Linked DNA regions of Homo sapiens: region 2 is linked to region 1. Evidence: fine-mapped expression QTL. A gene starts in region 1. The other region holds a variant in brackets. All regions are shown on one strand. Distances are from middle to middle.

Region 1 (10,894 bases):
TAGATTTACATCATACATTTTTCTCTCTCCAAGGAAATTCTAATTACTGGTTCCAATCATTTCTGATTGATTTGCTTTTTATTCTTCCAAGGTATTCTCTGCTTTATGATGAAATCAAGCCTTCAATAAAATTCCAAAAATTTTAGAACAATTTACAAGCTCCAGATGACTGAAAGTTTTCTCATGTCCGTTTGGCATTCAGAAAGAGAGTTTCACCAAGTATATTCTGAAGAAGAATACATCTGGCACTCACTAAAACAAAGAACTCACCAGTGACATACTTGAGGCAAATTAATGTTGCGTAAATGCAAATTTGCCAATATTCTTTGAGGCCAAAGCTGCAATCCAACCTCCATATATTTCAATGAGTCCTCTTCTAATGCGCAGGCCACCAGTCACATGAGTGAATGTTTGGGGCATATTTTAGCAATCAATTTAATAACTACACATTATCTTCTATGTACAAATTTAAAATTGCTTATGTGTAATGTGGATTTTTTAAAGAAAAGACTTAGCATCTGTTGAAGACTTGCCTAAGTTCATGTCTTCTCTTGGCCTGATGCAAACTCCAAATCATTGACAAAAAGACAACATAGAAACAAAGAATTTTAGCCCTAGAAAAAAAATTAAAAACCATCTCTTTCAAAGACTTGTTTCAGTAATATAAAGCATATCAGAAATCCAAATGTGTATTCATCATGGGAATATTTTCATGGATAATGTAAATTCTGCTATTCAAAAATACTGAATTTTTATGCATCAATAAGAAAGCAGTCCAAGAAAATAAATAATTTAATCAACATTATTCTTGCAAGAGTCCATTATAGGGCTATCAGTAGTGAATGATCCATTTTTATCAATTCAGTAAGAATACTAGTGTTTTTAAATGAATTCTTTCTGTAAGAAGGAGAGGGTTTTTTCCATCAATTCTGGTTCCAGCCTTGGCTTCTCCTTCAGCAGTTTCCTAGGAGAATATACTTTCACAAATCAAGTGGACCCAAATGTTGCCTGGTTTGGATACATGGCCAGAAACTGTGGGCTAATTCTGTGATTCATATCTTGGTCTCTAGCATGCCAGGGATGCCCACTGTGGGTCCCCGTTGAACACAGTTACTCTACACTTTGATTAAGCACTCTTAAGACTCAGCCACACTGATAGTACATGTTTGATTAAGACACACATTCCAAAGGATACAGAGACATAGATCATAGTGCTCAGTGTGTGATCATCAACATCTGTGAATCTCTTCTAAAATTATGAGTTTGTCACCACATACATCTTCAAATCTTCCTTTTTTTTTTTTGAAACAGTCTTGCTCCGTCACCCAGGCTGGAGTGCAGTGGCGTGATCTTGGCTCACTGCAACCTCCTGAGTAGCTGGAATTACAGGCGCGCACCACCATGCCCAGCTAATTTTTGTATTTTTAGTAGAGAAGGGGTTTTGCTGTGTTGACCAGGCTGGTTTTGAACTCCTGGCCTTAAGTGAATCACCTGCCTCAGCCTCCCAAAATGCTGGGATTACAAGTGTGAACCACCGTGCCCAGCCCAAATCTTTAAAATCTCAGATTCCTCTGAGCTCAGAGCAATTTTAGGAAGGTGAATTTACTGCAATTTCCACTTGCATTCTGCTAAATCCATGCATCCAGTTTGAATCCATAAAGTTGGACTCCATTAAATAAATCATCCAGCAGGGTGCAGTGGCTCCCGCCTGTAATCCCAGCACTTTGGGATGCCGAGGCAGGTGGATCACAAGGTCAGGAGATCGAGACCATCCTGCCCAACATGGTGAAATCCTGTCTCCACTAAAAATACAAAAATTAGCCAGGTGTGGTGGTGTGCGCCTGTATTCCCAGCTACTCAGGAGGCTGAGGCAGAAGAATTGCTTGAGCCCAGGAGGCGGAGGTTGCACTGAGCCAAGATAGTGCCACTGCACTCCAGCCTGGGTGACAGAGGGAGACTCCATTTCAAAAAAAAAAAAAAAAAATTATCAAAATTTAAAATGTTTGCTCTCAAGAGACAGCATTAACAAATTGGAAAGACAAGACAAAGACTAGAAAGAATGTTCGAAAAATGTAAATCTGAAGAGGACTTGCAGGAAGACTATTTTTAAAAACTCTTACAACTAATAAGACCAAAAAATAAAGAAATGAACACAAATTTGAAATAAAATATATTGATGGACAATAAGCATACGAAAAGCAAAATTCAACATCACTGGACATCAGAGAAATGTAAAATAAAACCACAGTGAAATACCACTTACACACCCACCAGAATGGCTAACATTGTAAATTACTGACAATACCAGAAGTTGGCAAGGATTTCAGGCAAATTGAATCTCACATATTGCTGGTAAGAACATAAAATAACACACTCACTTTATAAAACAGTTTGACACTTTCTTATACTGTTAAACATACCCCTACCATATGACAGCAATTTCACTCCTAAGCGTTTATCTAAAAGAAAACATATCCCAGCAAAGACTTAGAAGTGAATGTCCGTAACAGATTTATTCATAAACAATCCAAGTATCTATTAAGATGTAAACAAACAAATCAGGGTATATACATACAATGGAATACTACTCAGCAATAAAAAGGAATGTGTTTCTCATACACCTAATAACAAGGATGCATCTCAAGCAACATGCTGAGTGAAGGAAGTCAGACCCGAAAGAGTATTTACTCTATGATTTCATTCATATGAACTCCCACTGCAAAAAGGCTGCAGGAGAACAAGGTTGTAAACAAGGAGACCAATTAGGAGGATGTTGCAATAATACAGTTGGAAAATGGTGGTGGCTTAGACCAGAGTGGTTGCAAAAGAGGTGATGAGAAGTGGTTCCATTCTGGATATATCATGAAGGTGAAGCCAACAGAATTTCCTGAAGGATAGAATGCAGGATATCTCAGAAAAAGAGAAATCAAGGATGACTCCATGGTCCTGAATCTGAGCAAATAGAAAGATGAAACTGCTTTAACTGAGATGGTGAAGGTGGGTGGAGTAGGTTGGGGGATGATAACAGCAGTTGTGTTCAGTTTGAAACATCCATTAGATGTCCAAATGAAGATAGCAAGTTGGCAGCTGGATATATAGGAACAGTTCCAGGCTGGAGATATAAATTTGAGAGTTTTCACCCCATTTTTCTGGAAAAGTGGCTGGGAACAGGTAGAAAGAGTTTAAGAGAAACAGGAAAAACCATGTGCACAGATCTTCTTACTGTACAAAAAGTAAAGATCCATTTAAAAAAAATCTGGAGGTCATTAATGACTTGGGGGAAAACACTAGAATTTTGATAGTAAAAATATTTGATACAATTACCAAAACTCTGTATACTCAAGTAAGGTTTAGGGAGGGTTGTACACCTCCCCTCTGATCTTGTCCAATACTGTGTGGCTTGCTACCAAACTGGCAATGTCTAGGTAACCCACACTGGATACCCCAGAGATAAAGAGAGCAGCTTCCACCTGATAACCTCCCTCTCCTGCAGTCGCTACCACCCTCCCACCTTGAGTCAGCAGGAAAGGAAAGGAGCTTTTCCTCTCCTCCTGAGCTCTGCCTCCTGCTCAAGGACAGAGTCAAAGTTTTAACCCCTTCAGTTTGTAAGTTTTCTCATTCATGAAATTGTATTTGGCCATTTGCTTCTTAGAAGACAGCTGCCTTGGAAGCAAGCTATTAGTATGACTTTAGAGTTGGAGCCTTCAGAGGTAACTGCAATTTGTGTGGTATGATTTGATAAAAACAGAAAAAAAGATTTTTCTCTCCAGATTCCTGAAATTCCACTATGAAAGGTGAAAGTGAAATGCCCAACTTTGAATGAGCAGTATTGGAGATTTCACTAAGTCAATAAGTGAAGAAAAGAGAAGCTATAGATGAAAAAAGAAACCCATAAAAAGGGAGACTTTTTATTATATATTGACAAATTATAGTTGTATATATTAATAGGGTACAAGGTGTTATGATTTTTTAATACAATGTGTAATAATTAAACCAAGCTAATTAATATATCCATCACCTCAAATATTTGACATTTTTTGTGATGAGAACATTTGAAATTTACTCTCTTAGTGATAATGAAATATACAGTACTCAATTATCAGCTTTATTCACGACACCGTGCAATTGAACTTTAAAAAAATCAAACTTTTCCTCTCTTTTTTTTTTAGATGGAGTCTCACTCTGTCACTCAGAGGGATGATCTCAGCTCACTGCAACCTCTGCCTTCCGGGGTTCAAGCGATCATCCTGCCTCAGCCTCCCGAGTAGCTGGGATTACAGGCACGTGTCTAATTTTTGTATTTTTAGTAGAGATGGGGTTTCTCCATGTTGGCCAGGCTGGTCTTGAACTCCTGACCTCAGGTGATCTGCCCACCTTGGCTGCCCAAAGTGCTGGGATTACAGGCATGAGCCACTGCACCCAACCCTTATTCATCCTATCTAATTGAGGCTTACACTCTTTGACTGTTATCTCTCCATTCCCTGCAACCCTAGCCTCTGGTAACCACCATTCTACTCTCTGCTTCTATGAGTTCAATTGTTTTAAGTTACTTTCAGATACTTGAGAACATGTGGTATTTGTGTTTCTACATTTGGCTTATTTCACTGTGCATAATGTTTTCCACTTCCATCCATGGTGTCACAAATGACAGAATTTCTTTTTTAAGGCTAAATAGTATTCCACACATACACACAGACACATAAAATGGAATACTATTCTCTTTTAAATTTTGTATGCCTAATAATTCATGGTTAAAGGACAAGATAATAACTATTTTTGAGTATCCCGCTGTGGAGACACGATCTCCTTTGATCCTTGCAGCAATGTGTAAGGTAAGTGGCATCATCTTCCTTCTATTAATGGTAGAACTGAAGATCAAAGAGAGTGTCTAACTTGCTTAGGGCTACATAGCCAAGTGGTGAAGCTAAACTCAGTCTAGGCTTACTTGATAGTACACTAACATTAAATGTCTAGGAGTAAATATCTAAAACAAACTGTAAGTCTTCTCTATTTACCATACAAATTATTCAAGTGAACTGCCATTTTTGCCTGGCTTGAAAGATACTTTTCAGAAGAATGGGCTCATATACACATGCACGCGCGCACACACACACACACAATGGAATACTATTTAGCCTTAAAAACGCATATATATCTAAAATATATGTGTGTACATATTTTATATATATATGTGTTTATATATATAATATATATTATATTTGTATACACACACACATATATGCCACATTTTCTTTATCCATTTATCCCTTGATGGACACTTAGGTTGATTCCATATCTTGGCAATTGTGAATAGTGCTGCAATAAACATGAAAGTACAGACGTCTCTTCAACACACTGATTTCAAATCTTCCCAGTAAATACCCAGAAATGAGATTGCTGGATCATATGATAATTCTACTTTCAGTTTTTTGAGAAACCTCCATACAATTTTCCATCATGTTTGTACTAATTTACATTCCACCAACAGCATACAAGCATTCCCTTTTCTCCATTCTTGCCAACACTTGTTATCATAAAGGGAGGTTTGAGAGACCATAAAACAAACCCCACCTCACAATTTTGTTAGTGCAAGTTCTATTTGGCCTATTCCCAACACTAAGCACACAGTAGGTGGCAAATATTTGTTGAATGGATGAATTCTCATTTTTCTCCATTTGTGGAAGCAGACACCTCCTCAAAAAAAAAAAAAAATCCGAAAGAAAAGGTAAAGGAAACAGTTCTATGAATGGGGGTTAATTTACTCTCCTAGCATTCACTTATTGGGAAAAAAAGTAACAGCAGTTTCTAGAACCCTCTGGTCTCTGAGGGAGATGCTGTGTTCCCCTCCTCAGAGAAGAAGAAAACGCACTAGAGAGTGGGAGCATCCCCAAGGCTGAAGCGCATCCAGGACATCACATGTCAACGTGTCCTCTCTGGCGTGGGGTCCCCGCGAGTCTGGGAAACGAGGAGCTGGCAAGGGAGGGCAAGCGGGGGCGGCAAAGAGGGCCCCTGGAGCAGGGGGCGCGGACCTCGCTGCGCTGCGCGCTCTACCGCCGGGCTCGCAACGCTGGGCTCAGCGCTCGCGCCTCCCTCAGCTCTCTCCTCCGCCCCCCTTCGCCCTCCCCCTTTCCCTCCCTTTCTCCTCCTCCTCCTGCCGCCGCGGCCGCTGCCGGACTTCGCCAGATCAGACCCACGGGGCTGCCCTCCCCTGCGCACTCCCCTCGCTGCCCGGGCCCGGAGCGCAGCGCGGCCGCACAGGTAGGAGCCCCCAACGGGGGGTCGCCCCGAGCGAGCCCAGTACTCACTGGGCCGCGCGCGGGAGAGTGAGGTGGGGTGAGCTGAGGGGTGTTGAGTACCCGAGAACTGCCCTGGACTGTGCAGGGTGTCTCGGGCAGAGAGGGAGGTGGAGGTGTGCAGCCTCGGAATGCGATCTGTCAGCAAGTGCGAGTACTCGGGTGACATCTGTTGGGATGGGCATGTGTGTGCGCGCCGACAACCAGCCGGCAGGGCTTTGCCCATAAACGTGGTTTTGAAAGTTTAGGGGACCAGTGTGCGAGATTTAAGCCGCACCTGGATTCCATAGGAGCTGGTTAGAAGCTGGGACGCTGAGCAGCTCCAGGGGACCGCCGCGTTAGCTTGCTGTTAAGAAAGGGGACCTCATCTCCCTGCCGGGCCAGGCCGCCCGCCCGAAACTGGTACCTTGGGCTGCGGTGCGATCCCTGGTTCCGGTCCTAGGCAGCCTGAAACCGAAGGTAGCGTGTCGGGGACCCAGACTGATAAGACAAAAGAGAATCAGTCGCTTTGGGCTGCCCCTCCACACAACCTGGGACTTTTAAACAAAGCTGTGCGCAGAGAAAGGCGTGGAAATGCCACTTTGAGAGTTTGTGCTGGGGGATGTGAGAAGCTCTGAGACATGTGAGAAGGTCTAGTATTCTACTAGAACTGGAAGATTGCTCTCCGAGTTTTGTTTTGTTATTTTGTTTAAAAAATAAAAAGCTTGAGGCCAAGGCAATTCATATTGGCTCACAGGTATTTTTGCTGTGCTGTGCAAGGAACTCTGCTAGCTCAAGGTGAGTATACTGGGAAAGCCTTAACGTTCTAGAGAACAGAGTTTTGCAGCCCCACCTCCATCCCCCGGGGTGTGGGACTGGGGGGCAGGAAATGCACCGTCCCCTTTGAAATGGATTACTGTTTTTTCCTTTCGACCCCCTCTTTCTGCAGCCTGCTTTGTAGGTGCAGTATAAAATGCACGCTGAATGTCTTTTGTATGTAAACAGCGTAGCAGGATGGAGTAACGTGAAATGCAATTCTACAGCAGTTTTTACGTCTTTGCTGCCTCGTTCGTTGGCTACCGAGAAGGTTCAGGAGGGGGAGGGGAGATGAGAAAGCAGATTGGAAGTTGAGTATGGTGGAGCCTCAGCCTCTCCCACCCTCCTTTCCTCGCTTGTGCTCACTGCTAAAGTTTTGTTACTTTCCCCGCAGCAGATACTAAACATTAGTTTGTCCTGTATTTTCTTTGAGATTCACAATGTTGAAAGCCCTTTTCCTAACTATGCTGACTCTGGCGCTGGTCAAGTCACAGGACACCGAAGAAACCATCACGTACACGGTAAGGGGTGATGGAATTTGAAATAAGTACGGTTCAGCGGGATTCTGTGACAAAAAAAGACTTTACACACCCCTGCCAGTGTATTTGGGCTATACTCTGCTGAGGGTGATAAATTAAACAACACTTCATTCATGCTTCATATCTAAGATTCGTTGTAAATTGCCCCCTTGATCCTTTCAAAAGTTCATTGGGCTCACCACCTAAGATAGGAACCAACATGTAATCATTTGTGCAGGGCTAAAAATGGGATCCGTTCAAAAACTAAAACCAAAGAAAGTTACATGTTTCCAAAACATTCAACAAATTAATGGGTGTAAGGAACTGGAAAACCTGGACTCCTACCACATGCAGATAAAACCAATACGTGCAGAATAAGACTCAAGTCAAGTAAGAACGTTAAACACCATAAAGACACATGGCCTTCTTTGTGTACATGACATGCATTCTCAAGTAAGTGGCCTTTATTGAATTTATAAAGGCTATATATTCATTCTTTTTGTATAACTTGATAATTCTAATAAATAAAGGCAGACAACAGTTTATGTGTTACCAGGATGCATATTGGCTAAAGTGGTTTTAAAACGTAATGTGTGCAACTCCGTTTTGCATTTTCTAATTAGCGTCTCTGATATTTCCAAGTAATATTTGATTAGTTAGTTGCATAGGTGTAACCAATGTTTAATAAAATATTAAAAAGATCACCTGACCCCTCCCACTGCTACAAATAGTTGTGGTGAGAACAGAGAAGGACAGTACTGACTTCACTTCTGGTGAGTTTGTTTGCACCTCTGTTCTGTGTTTTCTTGTCTTTAATCAGTGTTAGGCAAATGACATTTGTCCTGGATTGGAATATGAAAAGCACATTTTTCTACTGCTCCCAGTTTAAAATTAAGTAATCCTACTCGAAAGAATGTGAAAAATTTTTGAAAAGAAAACTCTTAAAAATGAACTAATGTCAATTACTGATAATAAACATTATCTCACTTTTTGGTACCACATTATCCCTAGAATGTTAGTATTCATCTGGCAAATGTTCCTTTCTGTTGTTCAGATCCACTATAAATAAAATAGCTTAATACAAATATTTTGTTAACTTCATGTTAAATGCAGTTGCTTCCTCTGCTGAAGATAAATTAAGCAAGAAAAATGAAGGCATGTGCTGTTTATCTTAAAATGAAAATGTTTTGTTATTCAGACTAAACTTACTGCCTTCTCAGGGAGCTAAAATTAAATTCACTACCCACTTTTATAATCATCTCATAAAAGATTTTACTTCTTTTCCAGTTGCTTATCTTCTATGCCCTTCCCTTTGCTAATCACCTAAATCTTCCTCATTTTTACCAGAGAAGGTTCCCTGTGGCTTAAACATGATAGTTTTAAGACCACTAACTAGGGTTCATTATTATTGTAACAAATTTTCCAGATATGTTACCCTTTTGTGCTAAGATTGGGCCTATTCTCCTTTAAATTTTGTATGCCTAATAATTCATGGTTAAAGGACAAGATAATAACTATTTCTGAGTATCCCGCTGTGGAGACACGATCTCCTTTGATCCTTGCGGCAATGTGTAAGGTAAGTGGCATCATCTTCCTTCCACTAATGGTAGAACTGAAGATCAGAGAGAGTGTCTAACTTGCTTAGGGCTACATAGCCAAGTGGTGAAGCTAAACTCAGTCTAGGCTTACTTAATAGTACACTGACATTAAATGTCTAGAAGTAAATACCTAAAACAAATTGCAAGTCTTCTCTATTTACCATACAAATTATTCAAGTGAACTGCCATTTTTGCCTGGCTTGAAAGATACTTTTCAGAAGAATGGGCTCGTATCCACATAATAGCCTCATAGTCCTCTTCCATATTAAAGATGGTGTCCATTCAGCTGTTTACTCAACAACTATCTGCATAAGCAATTCTCATCACTATTAAAAGAATTTGTTTGTTTACTAAGAAAATTCAGTCTCCTCTTGGAGAATTTAGCCTGGGAAGACAGTGTTGAAAACTACAAAGTTCCTAAGCAAGGACAAATGATACTATTATACAGATTATACAAATTGCCAAGGAAATAGAAAAGCAAGGAGGTGATTAATGTTGGTGCCAGCATATTAGAGGAGACAGAACTCTGTGCTGGTTCTTGAAGGAAGTGATGACCTTGGTTGGATTGATCTAGAAAGGCTGAAGAGGCACCTGAGTCAGAGAGTGGCATAATCAAAAGCTAGAGCTGAAAGCACCTGAGACCAATCCAGGTGGTGATAAGGTCAGATCAGCTGGAACTGGGTAGTGGGAAGAACCCAGAGATGGTGATGATGAGAGATCTGCAGGTCACTGTGAGGTCTCAGAGAGAGGAGCAACATAACCAAGAGCACAAGAAAGATCATGGGGTCTGTATGCAGCATGTAGAGATGCGGGGCCTTGCCTACTCATGGGCCAGCAAAAGCCTTTCTTAGTAGACATGGTAGAAATGGACACAAAGTCAGCAGAGATGGAAGGAAAATAAGTGGAGCATTCAGCACTGATGTTAAAGTTGGAATCCTGGGTTTCGAAAAAGGTAGTGGTACCTTTAACACTGTTTGGGAAACAAGAAAAAAATTAGTCTGAGAGACAAAGTGAATTTAGTTCTCGCTCCAGTAAGTTTCAGACATCAGTAAAATATCTAAATGGATCTCTGGGCTTCCATTCAGCTATTTCCTTGTCAAGCATCCATTGTGTACATAAGCAGCTCTCAGTTATATTAAAAGAATTTAAGTTTATTTGTTTGTTTACTCCACTTTTGCTCAATCCTTCCTTGGGCTTCTTCCTTACAGTGACTTTCTCAAATGAGCGTCTGATCAGATTGTTTCCTGAGCTTAAAAATTCTTCAGAGGCCTCTTATCGCCTGTAGCAACATTTCTCAAGAAGTAGTTCCTAGACAACCTGTATGGGAATCGCCTGGGATACTTGCTAAGAATTTAGATTCCAGGCCCCCTACCCAGACCTACAGAATCAAATCCTTTGGGTGGGCCCAGGAATCTTCATTTTAACAAGAACCCTGAATGATCCTTAGACACAATAAAGCTTGAGATTCACTGACCTTCAGGGTAGAATTCAGGCTTCCATTCCTAAAGAAAGGCTTTCTTGTTTTGGCCCTGCCTACCTCTGTAACCTCATCCTCCACCTACCCAGAACTCCTTGCAGCTCCTTCCCTTTTCAAAAATTTTATGCCTTTGTCACAATAGCCTCTCTTCCTAGAATTCCCACATTCACCTGGAAAAATCCTGCTCATCCTGTAAAGCCTGATTTACTGTCA
Region 2 (10,894 bases), 140 kb after region 1:
TCCAATTAAAAGACACAGACTGGCAAATTGGATAATGAGTCAAGACCCATCAGTGTGCTGTATTCAGGAAACCCATCTCATGTGCAGAGACACACATAGGCTCAAAATAAAAGGATGGAGGAAGATCTACCAAGCAAATGGAAAACAAAAAAAGGCAGGGGTTGCAATCCTAGTCTCTGATAAAACAGACTTTAAACCAAGAAAGATCAAAAGAGACAAAGAAGGCCATCACATAATGGTAAAGGGATCAATTCAATAAGAAGAGCTAACTATCCTAAATATATATGCACCCAATACAGGAGAACCCAGTTTCATAAAGCAAGTCCTGAGTGACCTACAAAGAGACTTAGACTCCCACACAATAATAATGGGAGACTTTAATACCCCACTGTCAACATTAGACAGATCAATGAGACAGAAAGTTAACAAGGATACCCAGGAATTGAACTCAGCTCTGCATGAAGCAGACCTAATAGACATCTACAGAACTCTCCACCCCAAAACAACAGAATATACATTTTTTTCAGCACCACACCACACCTATTCCAAAATTGACCACATAGTTGGAAGTAAAGTACTCCTCAGCAAATGTAAAAGAACAGAAATTATAACAAACTGTCTCTCAGACCACAGTGCAATCAAACTAGAACTCAGGATTAAGAAACTCACCCAAAACCGCGCAACTGCATGGAAACTGAACAACCTGCTCCTGAATGACTACTGGGTACATAACGAAATGAAGGCAGAAATAAAGATGTTCTTTGAAACCAACGAGAACAAAGACACAACATACCAGAATCTCTGGGACGCATTCAAAGCAGTGTGTAGAGGGAAATTTATAGCACTAAATGCCCACAAGAGAAAGCAGGAAAGATCCAAAATTGACACCCTAACATCACAATTAAAAGAACTAGAGAAGCAAGAGCAAACACATTCAAAAGCTAGCAGAAGGCAAGAAATAACTAAAATCAGAGCAGAACTGAAGGAAATAGAGACACAAAAAACTCTTCGAAAAATTAATGAATCCAGGAGCTGGTTTTTTGAAAGGATCAACAAAATTGATAGACCACTAGCAAGACTAATAAAGAAGAAAAGAGAGAAAAATCAAATAGATGCAATAAAAAATGACAAAGGGGATATCACCACCGATCCCACAGAAATACAAACTACCATCAGAGAATACTATAAACACCTCTACGCAAATAAACCAGAAAATCCAGAAGAAATGGATAAATTCCTCGATACATACACCCTCCCAAGACTAAACCAGGAAGAAGTTGGATCTCTGAATAGACCAATAACAGGCTCTGAAATTGTGGCAATAATCAATAGCTTACCAACCAAAAAGAGTCCAGGACCAGATGGATTCACAGCCGAATTCTACCAGAGGTACAAGGAGAAATTGGGACCATGCCTTCTGAAACTATTCCAATCAATAGAAAAAGAGGGAATCCTCCATAACTCATTTTATGAGGCCAGCATCCTCCTGATACCAAAGCCGGGCAGAGACACAACCAAAAAAGAGAATTTTAGACCAATATCCTTGATGAACATTGATGCAAAAATCCTCAATAAAATACTGGCAAACCGAATCCAGCAGCACATCAAAAAGCTTATCCACCCTGATCAAGTAGGCTTCATCCCTGGGATGCAAGGCTGGTTCAACATATGCAAATCAATAAATGTAATCCAGCATTTAAACAGAACCAACAACAAAAACCATATGATTATCTCAATAGATGCAGAAAAGGCCTTTGACAAAATTCAACAACCCTTCATGCTAAAAACTCTCAATAAATTAGGTATTGATGGGATGTATCTCAAAATAATAAGAGCTATCTATGACAAACCCACAGCCAATATCATACTGAATGGGCAAAAACTGGAAGCATTCCCTTTGAAAACTGGCACAAGACAGGGATGCCCTCTCTCACCACTCCTATTCAACATAGTGTTGGAAGTTCTGGCCAGGGCAATCAGGCAGGAGAAGGAAATAAAAGGTATTCAGTTAGGAAAAGAGGAAGTCAAATTGTCCCTGTTTGCAGATGACATGATTGTATATCTAGAAAACCCCATTGTCTCAGCCCAAAATCTCCTTAACCTGATAAGCAACTTCAGCAAAGTCTCAGGATACAAAATCAATGTACAAAAATCACAAGCATTCTTATACACCAATAACAGACAAACAGAGAGCCAAATCATGAGTGAACTCCCATTCACAATTGCTTCAAAGAGAATAAAATACCTAGGAATCCAACTTGCAAGGGATGTGAAGGACCTCTTCAAGGAGAACTACAAACCACTGCTCAATGAAATAAAAGAGGATACAAACAAATGGAAGAACATTCCGTGCTCATGGGTAGGAAGAATCAATATTGTGAAAATGGCCATACTGCCCAAGGTAATTTATAGATTCAATGCCATCCCCATCAAGCTACCAATGACTTTCTTCACAGAATTGGAAAAAACTGCTTTAAAGTTCATATGGAACCAAAATAGGGCACACATTGCCAAGTCAATCCTAAGCCAAAGGAACAAAGCTGGAGGCATCATGCTACCTGACTTCAAACTATACTACAAGGCTACAGTAACCAAACAGCATGGTACTGGTACCAAAACAGAGACATAGAACAATATAACAGAACAGAGCCATCAGAAATAATGCCACATATCTACAACTATCTAATCTTTCACAAACCTGACAAAAACAAGCAATGGGGAAAGGATTCCCTATTTAATAAATGGTGCTGGGAAAACTGGCTAGCCATATATAGAAAGCTGAAACTGGATCCCTTCCTTACACCTTATACAAAAATCAATTCAAGATGGATTAAAGACTTACATGTTAGACCTAAAACCATAAAAACCCTAGGAGAAAACCTAGGCAATAAGGTTCAGGACATAGCCATGGGCAAGGACTTCATGTCTAAAACACTAAAAGCAATGGCAACAAAAGCCAAAATTGACAAATGGGATCTAATTAAACTAAAGAGCTTCTGCACAGCAAAAGAAACTACCATCAGAGTGAACAGGCAACCTACAGAATGGGAGAAAATTTTCGCAACCTACTCATCTGACAAAGGGCTAATATCCAGAATCTACAATGAACTCAAACAAATTGACAAGAAAAAAACAACCCCATCAAAAAGTGGGCGAAGGATATGAACAGACACTTCTCAAAAGAAGACATTTATGCAGCCAAAAAACACATGAAAAAATGCTCATCATCACTGGCCATCAGAGATATGCAAATCAAAACCACAATGAGATACCATCTCACACCAGTTAGAATGGCGATCATTAAAAAGTCAGGAAACAACAGGTGCTGGAGAGGATGTGGAGAAATAGGAACACTTTTACACTGTTGGTGGGACTGTAAACTTGTTCAACCATTGTGGAAGACAGTGTGGCGATTCCTCAGGGATCTAGAACTAGAAATACCATTTGATCCAGCCATCCCATTACTGGGTATATACCCAAAGGATGATAAATCATGCTGCTATAAAGACACATGCACACCTATGTTTATTGCGGCACTATTCACAATAGCAGAGACTTGGAACCAACCCAAATGTCTAACAATGATAGACTGGATTAAGAAAATGTGGCACATACACACCGTGGAATACTATGCAGCCATAAAAAAGGATGAGTTCATGTCCTTTGTAGGGACATGGATGAAGCTGGAAACCATCATTCTCAGCAAACTATCGCAAGGACAAAAAACCAAACACCGCATGTTCTCACTCATCGGTGGGAATCGAACAATGAGAACACATGGACACAGGAAGGGGAACATCACACTCTGGGGCCTGTTGTGGGGTGGGGGAAGGGGGAGGGATAGCATTAGGAGATATATGTAATGCTAAATGACGAGTTAGTGGGTACAGCACACCAGCATGGCACATGTATACATATGTAACTAACCTGCACATTGTGCACATGTACCCTAAAACTTAAAGTATAATAATAATAAAATAAAATAAAATAAAGAGAATTCTCAAGATGGTATCAAAGCGAAGACCTAATAAACATGTGTAGCAGGTTCAAAAAGCAACCAATCCTAATCGAAACACAAGTACAAAAGGTAAGAATAAACTCCTCCTAAATGGAATGTGCAGATTATCTTACAAATTTTACCATGTAGAAAGCTGTAATGAGAACTACTTTACAAAGAAGTTTGTAGTTTCCAAAAATATAAAAACCAGGCAAGTGAAAAAATAAAAAAATTATTAACTCCAAGAAAACAGAAATTGTATAAGAAATTGAATTATAGCATAAATTATATACTACATATACATATATACTATGCTTTAGCTTGTTTAAACTTTACATAGTATATACAGTATAAACTATACATAGTTTATATTATAATATATATATGGTACAAACTGTATGCACATATTATGACTAAGTAGTATAAATATATAGTATAAACTATATAGATAATACATATAGCACAAATTATATACATACTATATAGTATATATAATTATATATACTCAGTACAAACCATATATTATATATATTCCCACATACAAACTATGTACATATTTAACTACAAAATGGTTATAATAAATTGATGAGTATAGATTCAACCAAAATTTATGATGGTACTATTTCACAAAGAATGGATTCAAGAAAAGAGCTATAAAAAGGCCAAAATAAATAATGCTTTAAAAAGGCAATAGCAGTATTCGCACAGTGTTTTGATATTAGAAGTGGTGAAGATTTTGAAAATGTTTACCTGAGGGAGGTAGGAGTATTCAGAAGGACGAGGCAATTTGAGGTGGAGGGATTAAGAGAATATTGGTTTTTGCTGTAAGCCTCTTAGCATTATTTGACTTTTTAAACTTGTACTCGTTACTTTGATGTTTAAAAAAAAGGAAAATATTAATTTTTTTATAAAATGAAAGAAAGAAGGGAGGAAGGAATGAAGTTATTTCCTTAAAGTAGATTTATGTGCATGCTGTAATACTATAAAAATATTTATACAACCATAGTTCTAGAGACTACAACTGTAGAAAAAAAGCAACTGCCCCAACTCTTCATTTTTTACAACATTCACCTTTAGACTTAAGTATTCAAGTTTAACCCAAGTGATTATATTAAGTCCAAAAACACCGGTTCGTGATTAGTAGGAAGGAACTCTGGCCTGACAGGCTTTAGTTACAATTACTTCTCATACCCTCTCCTATGTGTTTCATGAGGGTTTGGGTCACATTCTTCCAAAGGGATCAAGGATATAGGACACATCTAACTGCTCTGGCAATCCTCACAGTGCTCTATACATAGCAGATAATTCAAAATTTTAATTACAGGTGCAAGAGGGCTCAGACTATTTAATGCGGACGGGAAGATGGAAATTAGTACCTTATTCATAGGGATACAAGAAGAGAATACATCATTCAGATAATATCATTGTAAGCATTCCCAAGGATAAATATGCATGTTCATTACTGTGTAATCCTAGGAGCAAAACAAACCCTCTGTTACATAACTCTTATTTTACCTTTCTTAATCTTTGAGTAATTAACATGGAAAAAAAAGTTGTTTTCTGGGCTACTCCACAGACAAATAGTTTCCCAGCAGAAAGAGACAAGCAAATAAGCCTGAGCATGTGATGGACTTGGAAAGCAATGAATCTTAACAAATTTGCAGTTGAATTATTGAACTGTTAAGACTGCAGAGTTAAACAGAAAAGATCTGGATGAATAAATGGGGTTTTGTTACCTTT[GTTTC/C]TTTGCTTATTTTATTTGTTGAGCTGTTTGTTGCCATGAGCACCAAAAATTATGACATTGCCATTCACATTGAATATTTTTATTTGGAAAATAAGGTTTCACTTACATAGTTGAGGTTCATCAACCACATGAACTGAGAGTGGGAGGTTTACACACACATACACCATAGATTTATTTGCTAAACCACTGATCCTTGTTTATTTTTAGATGAACTACAAAATGGTAGTTCTTCAGTTTAGCGAGTATTTTCTTTGACTCGTTCAACAAATATTTTTTGAGTATCTACCATGTGCTGCGTGCTACTACATACTATATGATCTAGGCCCTGCGCAAGGTGCTAGAAATAGGTGCAGGGAAAAACAGAGTATTTACAATCTAGTGGGTTGGTGGTACAGTTAAGCAATTAAACAAGCAATTATAATAAGACAAGTTAAATGCTTGGAACACATATAGCAGACACACTCAATATATCCTGGGGTTCATGGGTGGGGAGGGCTTAGTCAGCGAAGCTTCCCAATTGAAGTGACATTGAGTGGCACTTGAGGAATGACTAGGAGTTATTCATGCCAAGAAGGATGGAGAAGAGGCAATGAGGCTGAGGAAGGCCAGATACCAAGGAGAGCAGTGAGGAGGCCAGTGCAATAATGGAGAGGAGAGACAATGGTGGCCTGGACTTGGGAAATGGCAGTGGTGTTAGAGAAAAAGAGATGGGTCTGAGAGCCATTAAGGAGGCACAATTGTCAGGATTCCATGACTTACTGGATGTGAGAGATGAGGGAGAAGGAAACACAGCTGCAGGTTTCTGATTTGGACAACTGGGTGCATGGTGGGTGTTATTCACTGAGCCATCACTTACAAGGGGAGCAGGTTGAGGGGGGCAGATGATGAGTTCAGTTCTGAATATGTTCAGTTTGAGGTACATGGCAGGCATCGAACTGGAGATTTCTATCACGTAATTGGACTATAGGGTCTGAGCTGCAGATATAGATTTGGAAGATAATGATCTCAGAGCAGATAGTTGAAGCCATGGCTTTTGATCCGATTATCCAGAGAAAGTCTACAGACTGAGAAAAGCAGAGGTCAGAAAACAGACCCTGTAGTCTACTGACCTTTAGGGAACAAGCCAAGGGAAGAGATTAAAAAGAAGCCTGAGAGGCCCGACACAGTGGCTCATGCCTGTAATCCCAGCACTTTGGGAGGGTGAGGCAGGTAGATCACTTGAGGTCAGGAGTTCGAGATCAGCCTGGCCAATGTGGTGAAACCCCATCTCTACGTGCCACCATGCCCAACTTATTTACAAATTAAACTGGTGAAAGACAGACAAACAGGAGAGCAAAAGCATATGAATTGTATTTGATGCGTAGCTTTTATATGACACAGGGATCTTCCTACCAAAAAAGTGAAGAACGAAGAAGCAAACTCTCTCAGACGAGAGTTTATATACCGTTTTTAACAACAACAAGAAAGATAAATTGCAGAGATGGCACAAGACAAAGGAAGAAAGTTTTTAGGCTTCTAAGGGCTGCAAACTGGGGAGGTAAATATATAGAGAAAACTAATGGAAAATAAGGGCTATCTTATCAAGCTTTGTTTGTGCAGGTCCATCTTGGTGCCAACTTGCCGTCTTCCTCACAGTCATAAAATTTGCCCAAGAAAGGGGATTTATGGCAATCCTCAGTTCTCAGAAGTTTCTGCTTTTAGTCAGATAATGGGAACTCTAGAAGGACTTCATTTTGCATCTGTTGATTCTCCATTTTCTTCAGCTGAAAATGATCCCTGTGCCAAACTGGCATATTTTGGGTTGGCATAGTCTAATCCCCTTCAGTGGTAAAGTGTCACACACCACAGAGAGATCAATTCAATTCAAAAAATATTTATTGAGCACCAACTATGTGCCAGGCATGTGCTAGTGGGTAATGAGGATAGAGTAGTGAAAAACAGAAGCCCGGTCATTATCATCAAAAAAAGAGAAAAACGGCCATGAAATTTGGGATTGTGGAGAACATTTGCAATTTGCAGTAGCAGTTTCAATGGAGGGGAAGGTGAGAGGCTAGGTTATAGTGGACTGAGGTGAGACTCAGAAGTGAGGAAGGGCACTGGAAAATGGAGACAACTCTTTCAAGAAGTGTGACCATACAGGAGAAAAGAATAATGAACAGCAACTTTAAAGAAGATGGGGAGCCAAGGATGAGGGGTTATTTTGTTGACTTTGTTTGTTTCATATTATTTGAGAATATTGAACATGCTTATATGCAAAAATAAATGTGCCACAGAGAAAAACAGGTTAATACTACAGAAAAAAGGAGGTAGGCCGGGCCCTGTGGCTCACGCCTGTAATCCCAGAACTTTGGCAGGCCGAGGCAAGAGGATCACCTGAGGTCAGAAGTTCAAGACAAGCCTGGCCAACATGGAGAAACACCATCTTTACTAAAAATACAAAAACTAGCCAGGCATGATGGCAGGCACCTGTAATCCCAGCTACTTGAGAGGCTGAGGCAGAGAGAATTGCTTGAACCTGGGAGGCGGAGGTTGCAGTGAGTGGAGATCACGCCACTGTACTCCAGCCTGGGTGACAGAGCTAGACACCCTCTCAAAAAAAAAAGAAAGAAAGAAAGTGAAAAAGAAAGAAGTAGTTTATGAAGATGATTTCTGAGGGAAAACAATGAGACATGGGTAGGGAAATATGTAGTTCACCTTGCAAGTCTTACCTGTGTCATCTCCTCTCCTGTCCTAGCCTCATCCCAGCTCTGGAGGGAGCATTCAGCTATATAAACACCACCCCACTTCATTCCTGTAATCCCTGACCAAGAGCTTTAAATACCTAAACCCTAGGAATTTGGAAATAATTGGTAGAACTCTAATGCCTCAGAGCCAAAGCTTGGGCATTTCAAAAGGCTATCAAAAGCAGCCTTTCTTTCTCATCCTCACCAACCTCTGAACTAGAGAGCGATCAGATCACCTTTCTGCCCCCTTCTACCCAGCCTCTGGTAATGGTGGAGAAGTTCCTCTGTTTTTCTCAAATCCCCAGACACTAGTATAAAGAGAGGGGCAGGAGGGTGAGGAGAGACTCCTGCCTTATATCCCAGGTACCTGATCAGGTACACACACATACATACATACATACATACATACACACATACACACACACACACACATCTCTGCAAACTTATGCCTTGGGCCTGGATCCTACCCTATTCCTCATCCTGGCATAAGCCTGCTTTGCCTTGTTCCATCAGCATTTCTATTCTGCAATTTAAAATTATTTCCTATGCCAATCCTCCTGAAGGAGGCTCCCCTTGGCCCTCCAATACCAGCTTGGAGCTGGACCAAATTTCTGTCACTCCTGCTTGACTTCATCTACCTTCCTGTAATCTCCCCATCCCCAGCTCATGCTCTCCTGGGTTCACAACATGCCTTGAGGTCAGTGCTGTCAGCACCTCCCAAGGGATGTCAGGGTTGATAAGGAAATTTGCAAGGCCTTGACTCTGAAGTCAAAAACACAAAACATATTTAAGTGAAATCGCCTCCTTTTGCTAGCCTAAAATCTAGATTTTTACATGTTTTTGAGGAACACAAAAGTGTTTCTGTGGGCAGTATTGAGCAGGGACTTAATTAATTATTAACGGGTATAAAGGAAAGAACACTGAATCAACCACAATTCAGGTTCCCACTTGCTTTTTTTTTTTTTTTTTTTTGAGACAGTGTCTTGCTCTGTTGCCCAGGCTGGAGTGCAGTGGTATCTCGGCTCAGCACAACCTCTGCCTCCCATGTTCAAGTGATTCTCCTGCCTTAGCCTCCTGAGTAGCTGGGACTACAGGCGCAGGCCCCCAGGCCCAGCTAATTTTTGTATTTTTAGTAGAGACAGGGTTTCACTATGTTGGCCAGGCTGGTCTCCAACTTCTGACCTCGTAATCTGCCCACCTCAGCCTCCCAAAGTGCTGGGATTACAGGCATGAGCCACCACACCCGGCTAGCATTTCTTAATTCTGTGAGTTTTGGCAAATGTTCAAGGTCTCTTAGTCTTACTTTTCTTATCTGCGAAATGGGGATGATTATAGCTATGTTCTAAACACCTTATGAATGATCTCATGTAATCCTCACAACAACCTGGCAAGATAGGTTCTATTGTTAACAATACTTGATGATCAAGGTTTAAACCAGCTAGTCTTATTCCAGCGCCTGCCCCACTAACCACTGTGCTCTACTGAGCTAATAATATCTTCCCTCCCACTTTCAGGGATATCAAGAAGAGCACATGAAATAATGTGTAAGAAAACACTTGGTAGATTTGCTTAATGGGTACAAAGTTACAATTTGGTAAGACAATAAGAGTTCTAGAGATGGATGGTGGTGATGGTTGCCAACAATGTGAATGTACTTCATACTACTGAACTATATGCTTAAAAATGGTTAAAGTGGTAACTTTTATGTTATATGTATTGTACATTAAATTTGTAATTTCAAAAATACTTGATAATTATAAAGTGCTGTAGGAATGCAAACTATTAGAGATAGTTTTAATTCTTTTTCATTTATAAACTAGCAGGTTCCTCAAAAGATTTTATCTGACTCACTATTAATCCTCTGAATGTCTAGAAGAGATGATGGAAAAAGAGGACCCCTAGTGTAAAATGACAGCATCTGTACTCAGCAGCTTCAGTGGCGGAACAGAAATGAAGAGGGTAAAATGAGTCCAGGGCAGAGCCTGATTGCAAATACATTCCCTGGCCACCTTCTGCATTGTCCAGTGGGTCACTTCCAAGAGGAAAGATTATTGCTGAGGTTCAAGAAACCACATCAGTGTAAGCTGGGTTGCTAATCTGTTCATTTGTGTCCATACCTTTTCAGGCTGAGGCTGAGGGCATCACCAATGATTTTCAGTATCACATGTGAGTCGCTCCTTGCAGTGTGCACATTTCCCACCCTTGCCTCTACTGCAATGGGCCCTTATATAATTTATTATATTTATGTTATTATATTCCCTGTAATGGCCTTCCTTTTCCTTGTAATGTCTTTCCTTTCTCCTAAAAACAAATTTTAATAAAAAATATATATTCATTATAGAAAATTTAGAAAATATAAAAATCAATTGCCCTTGGCTAAGTATTAGATTTTGCCCAATAATTCAAAAAAAAAGTTTTCTGATTCTCTCC

Direction of the effects. Positions count from the first base shown, and alleles are read on the strand shown. Sizes are in standard deviations (SD) of each study's normalised expression.
As copies of GTTTC replace C in region 2, the expression in cerebellum of the gene that starts at base 6,187 in region 1 goes up (small effect, 0.38 SD a copy in GTEx).

Evidence for each region. PIP is the estimated chance that this variant, and not a neighbour inherited with it, causes the effect.
Region 2: its variant is fine-mapped to the expression of EFEMP1 in cerebellum (GTEx, PIP above 0.99).

The regions. Positions count from the first base shown.
Region 1 is chr2:55,919,075-55,929,968 of GRCh38, reverse strand. EFEMP1 (EGF containing fibulin extracellular matrix protein 1) reads left to right here and starts at 6,187. Exons shown (of 12, transcript NM_001039348.3): 1 at 6,187-6,258; 2 at 7,030-7,070; 3 at 7,522-7,609. The coding sequence starts at 7,529. RefSeq lists an enhancer at 6,128-6,627.
Region 2 is chr2:55,781,205-55,792,098 of GRCh38, reverse strand. No RefSeq gene overlaps it. Among named protein-coding and RNA genes, the nearest start is that of PNPT1, 93 kb to the right of the region's middle. The variant GTTTC/C (reference allele first, on the strand shown) is at 5,738.